2 separate regions of the Homo sapiens genome follow, and region 1 is linked to region 2. The links come from fine-mapping of genetic effects on gene expression. Tissue or cell type: whole blood. Region 2 holds a variant in brackets; the other region holds the start of a gene. All regions are shown on one strand. Distances are from middle to middle.

The links.
Region 1: it holds the start of GPRIN3, and the variant in region 2 is fine-mapped to the expression of GPRIN3 in whole blood (TOPMed, PIP above 0.99).

The regions. Positions count from the first base shown.
Region 1 is chr4:89,306,097-89,309,012 of GRCh38, reverse strand. It overlaps GPRIN3 (GPRIN family member 3), which reads left to right and starts at 1,213. Exons shown (of 2, transcript NM_198281.3): 1 at 1,213-1,398. RefSeq lists silencers at 1,134-1,203, 1,214-1,263.
Region 2 is chr4:89,281,703-89,284,618 of GRCh38, reverse strand. The region is part of intron 1 of GPRIN3 (GPRIN family member 3); the gene reads left to right. Among named protein-coding and RNA genes, the nearest start is that of GPRIN3, 25 kb to the left of the region's middle. The variant C/G (reference allele first, on the strand shown) is at 1,286.

The DNA of each region.
Region 1 (2,916 bases), 24 kb before region 2:
ACTTGGGAGGCTGAGGCAGGAGAATCGCTTGACCCCGGGAAGCGGAGCTTGCAGTGAGCCGAGAGCGCGCCACTGCACTCCAGCCTAGGAGACGAAGCAAAAAACAAAAAACAACAACAACAAAAAACTAAAAAAGCGTTTCCTCAGTCCCTACCCCAGACCTATTGGATCACAATCAGCATTTTAACAAGACCCCCTAGGTGAGTCCTGTGTACTAGATGAGAGGATATATTTTGGATTGGTTTGAATCCCAGCTGAGCAGGTTACTACTGTGTGACCTCAAGCAAAGTGTTTAGATCATATAAGCCTGTTTCCTCGTCCACATGGTAAGGCACCTCAATGGGTTGTAGTAAGAATTAAAGAGGCTGAGGCTGTATGTAAGGCATTTTTCACAGAGCCTTCCAACAAATACCCAGTTAATAATGAAGCTCTTTTCATCGTATCATTTTGCACCATCTACAGCTGCTAACCATACTACACATCCATTCAGGATTCTGGAGCTGCTCAACAGGGAAGATTTCCAAAGCCCTCAAAGCCCTCCAAGCCCATGGGGTAGCGGGAAGGGGATGGGGACAGGAACACTGTCAGCAGTGCCTCTCCGAATACGCAGGATACTGTACATTTTGCAAAACATATTACTTATCGGATGATCTTGCTTTCAGATCTCCACTGCACGTGGCTTTATTGGAAACCTTCTGCTAGAGTCTAGACTCAGCCATGGAGTCTGGTGACCTGTGGGAGGGAGCAAGGGCCAGAATGCCTGCTAAATCGCTCTGGGTCCCCAGCCCTCTTCCTTAATCCCTTCTTAACTTTCCATCTGTCTCTGGTCTCCAGGGGTGCAGAACCACAACCCACCAGACCCCTCCTAGCTCCCGGCCCGGCGCTCAGCAGCCTGGGCTGCAACACTTTCCCCCAGGACCGGGAAGGCGGGGGAGGGGGTTTGGAGGGGGCGGAGCTCGGCCTCCTGCTGCCGCCGCTGCTGCTGCCGCCGCCGCCGCCTGCAAAGCTGTCGCCCCTCTCTCGGATGCTCAGGCTGGGCAGCGCTGGACAGATGGGTACACCCCGGGCCTGACGGATGAACAGTCGGGCAAGTGAACTCTCACCTCCAAACTGGCTCTGCGCCCGGCGGGGGCGGCGGCGGCGTCTGCAGCCCCGCGGTGGGGGCAGCCCCCTCGGTCTACGCCCGACTGCTGCGCGCCGCCTCTGCTCTTGGCATAGTAATTTCAGTTCCTGAACGCACGGAGCTCGCTCCGGGACCGGGCTGAGAAGGACCTCAGCTCGCGGGCCCGCCGGAGCCATCGGTGTGGCGCCGAGAGACGGTGCTTGGGATATGCGACGGGAAGCCCCCGCCACAGCGCAGGCAGTGGCCCCGCCGCGCCGCGGAGCCGGGCAGAGCAGGTAGGAGACGCCCCCTGCGCACCTCCGCCTGGCGGCCAGCGCGGGGGACCGGAGCCTGGTGGTGTGCTCTGTAGGGATGCGGAAGGGATTCGGTCCCACATTTTGCACAGGGATCCTTTGCCTGTTGCTCTTGTCTCTGTCCCATCCTGCGCTCTAGGAGGGGCAGTCTTTCTCGCAGGTGATGAATTTCTCTGCAAGGTCATTGCTCTCTTTGGCTCTGGCTTTGAAGGTAAATGGGAGAAGACGCCTGCTGATCGTGGGCAGGGAAATTTATAATCAATCGGGTCTGCACACTGCGAATATCCGAATATGAGGGGTGTGTGTGTGTGTGTGTGTGTGTGTGTGACATTTGTCTCATTTTCCTATGCTTATCCCCTTTAAGGTCAAAACATAGAAATATATATTACATATGGATGTATGTATGTGTGTGTATATACACACACATACATAAATGCATATGTAAATAGGTTTTCTTGAGGTAGGCAGAAAGAAGAGGAAGGGCGGGCAGGGGTTGATAAAGGGAAATCGTTGTAGAGACATGTTCACTAATAGAGGCGAACTTTGGAACCACATTAAATCAGGGTAGAGACTAGAGGTGATAAACGGTTCTTTCAAGATGGGCTTTAGAAGAGGTCTGAAGGAGCCTGTCAGCCAACACACACAGAAGATCTTCATGCTCTCCAGGCAGATGGAAACGATGTAGGCATCATTTCAGACGCAATAATGGACAGTGAAAGAGGGAAAAAAGGAGAGGTACTTAATATGCCACTGGGAAGTGAATTTTGGGTGATGGGAAGGCATCGAATCCAGACCAGGTTTCAAGGGCTTTCTGGAGGGCCATTGGGAGAAATCACCGCTTGGGGTGTAGGCAGTTCAAGGTTAAGACGATGTGAATGTCCACAAAGCAGCCGAGGAGGTGGGCAAAAGGCAAGGGCTTGGAGGGGGAGGGGAGAAACAGAGCTCTGAGCAGTCACTCAAGAAGCACCCACCTTTGAGTAAGGTGTCTTCTTCCTCTTGGTTAAAGCGGTACTTGGGTATGCTCCATCTAAATATTTTCACAACACATTTGTTTAAAGATCCATTGGACTATGTTTTTATTTTGTTTTTGCAAGGTATCTGGGTCATGGTGGGACTAGAAGAAACTGAAGTGTTTACAACACCAGCAAGATTTGGGAGAGAGGGTTGATTAAGGCTTTGCTTCATGAAATATTTACACATCTCCTGCGTGGGCTTTTGTTTGCTCTTGTTGGTGCTGCTGCATATTTTACTTTGATAATGCTTTGAGTGTACTTCGCCCGAATGTGCTTATTTTCCAGTTATAACCTATTCTTTCTTTTCCCATTGTGCTCACCATTGGCCTGCCCTGAGTAACAATTGTGGGAATAAAGGTACATGAGTCACAGCCCAAAGCAGAAAATCTCTGCTGCTATCTGCAAAAGACAGGAGTTTGCGTTAGAGAATGTTCTTTTTCGAGTTTTTGTGTGTGTTTAGTTTTTCAAGTTTTGTGTGTCTTTAATC
Region 2 (2,916 bases):
TGAGTTCCTGTTAGTAAGAAAGCCCAAGTAATTCTACTACCATAATCACTAATATTATTGCTGTTACTACTAGCTAACCTGTGTGCAAAACTCTCTTCTAAGAATGCACAACAATCCTAGAGGAAGGTGTTATTTTCATTCCTGGGTGGCAAGTGTTACAAACCTTAGGCACTGGGGAGTCAACTAATTTGCCTGAGGCCACACAGCTTGTAAGTGGCCAACCAGATGTGAACCTGAATAATCTGATCCTAGAGGCATTGTTAACCACTGTGCCTCTCACACAGTGAAATGTTTCCAGAAGGTAAGGGACAGTAATTCTGAATGGCTGGCAGTCCTCCAGCATGTGGTCTTCAGCCTCCTGTCTCTGTTCATGCCGTTCATTTGCTTTAGTGGCCTCTTCCACCCACCCATTCCTTCACCTGGCTGACTCCCCATCCTTCAGGGCATTCTGCCCAGCACACCTTTCCAGAATCCTGCTGAGGCCCTTACCTCACCAGCTTGTGGTGGGTACCCTGTGATACCATCTGTCATAGCGTTTACCTCAACACAGTTGCTTTTCTGCCTTGTCTTAAAACCTTGGATCCTTCCATTCTTTCATCCTTCGCATTCAATCAGAGGGCACAGCTGATTTGACCTCTTCAGTATTTCTAGGTCCATCCTTCCCTCAGTTCCTGCTGCCAGTGCCCTACTTCTCACAGTTTCACTTACAAAGCCCCCCGCAGTTTTACTTTGTCACACCCTTTAGCCCTATATCTTGCATCCGGAGCTGCAGCCATGCCAACTAAATATTGTTCCAGCCCCACCCCACCCTCAACCACTTCCCCAGTAGGCTGCCTGTATATCTATTCATGCTTGTCCATATGCACCTGAAATGCCCTTTCCTCCCCACTGGTGAAGTCCTGCTTAGTTTTCAAGGCAGCATTGCTGTTGCTTACACTCAGAGGCCTTGGGTGGGCCTTCTCTTAGATATGCCAGCATTGTGCACTCATAACACCCTATGCCGAGCTCTACCAAAGGGCTCACCATTATACCGTAGTCCAGTCTCCCTTTATGTTTCTGCCTCCCCCACTAGATATGAACTTCCTGAAGGTGAGGACTGGCAGATTCCACCCACCTTGTGTGTACCATGATCTGTGTGATTACTTACTATGTTCCTGGTATTTTTTTCCTTCCCTGTTTTGCAGCAGATCTCCACTGGTTCCCCGGAAGCTTTCCCTGATTGCAAAAGTTGGAATGAGTCATTCTTTTCTTGTGTTACCATTGAAATCTGTAGCAATGAAATCAC[C/G]TTTCTGCCCAGTGGATGTGAGCTTCTGAAGGCAGGAATTGAGCCTTTGTGGCTCTCTAGAACCCACCACAGGCCTGGCACATTGTGTATGTTAAACAATTTGGGATAGCCTAAAAAGTAATGTTTAATGTTTGTGCTACATAGGCCTATTGTTCAGCTGCATGAATTGAGTGAATAAGAAAAATAATTACTCTGAAGGCCTGTCTTTACTTCCTCTCATAGCCCTCAATGAAGCAAGGGATTTTACAAACAAAACACTAAAGGCCTTGGCTATCTTTGTTAATATTAATAACAATCGGTCTTTTTAGGCCTGAACGTATGTGCATAGTGTTCTTATCACTTTCAGAAAAACATTCCTCCATTACCATCTGAGGGTAACATAATCGCATGTGTGGCAAGTCATCAAATTAGTGAATTCTTAAAAGTCCAAGTTATTATATCTTTATTAGGCAGATTTCCACAGATTTGTGAGGTCTTCGATGTAGACTCTGAGACTGTGATTCATAGTTCCCATGACAGCAAAGTGGGGATAGCTCTCTGAGCCACCTCGGGCCACGAAGAGGTAGTTTTTAGTGGGTAAAAATCCCATACTTCTGACAAGTGATTTGTCAGATTAATATTCTACACCAGGGTTGTCCAGTCTTTTGGCTTCCCTGGGTCACGCTGGAATAATTGTCTTGGGCAACACATAAAACACACTAACAATAGCTGATCAGCTAAAAAAAAAAAAAAAAAAAAATTGCAAAAAAATCACATATGTTTTAAGAAAGTTTACAGATTTGTGTTGGGCTATGTTCAAAGCTGTCCTGGACTGCATAAGGACAAGCTTGTTCTACACACTTTGGATCCTTCCTTTCCTAATGAGGCTTATAAATCTGTGAGTTTATCCCAATAATAGATGCACACCACTGAAGCAGGTGAGAGATTACAACCCCTTGAGGGTCAAGGTAACAAGGCATGTTGGAAACATTCCTGACTCCCAGTATCTTATTGTTTACAAAGGATATTTCTATTATTTAGATACTCATATGACATTGATTTTTGTTATAAACTACTATTCAAAACAGTAAAATAAATTCAAAGCAAATAATTCATGATTTGAGATAGGATGGACATAATTCTCATCATTGCTAGTGAATATAGTTAACTTCAGTAATAGAAATGGCTATTCTTTTATGTTACAGTAATTTTGTTGGCAATGCATTATACACGAAATAAAAATCACATTTCTTTAGAGGCATGTTAGCATTCACCAAACAATAACTGTACTTCTTTTTCTTCTTGCCAGCACCATGCAGGATACTGAGACTACCAGGCACCCACTCACTCTCTACAGTACTCTTACTAAAGAGACCAAAAAAAAAAAAAAAAGATGACTGCATAGCAATGCATTATAATAAAGACTTTAGAATGCAATGAGACAACAGAGGAAAGACTTGTAATTAAGGGGGAATGGTTTAGGGATGGGAAAGTGCAAGGAAGGCTTCCCATAGAAGAAAATGCTGAGTTGTGTTGAGATTATTAGCAATGCAAGAAAGAGTAGAGAGGGTATTTTAGTTTCCTAGAGTGGCCATAACAAAATACCACAAACTGGGTGGCTTAAAACAACAGAAATGTGTTCTGTCCTTGTT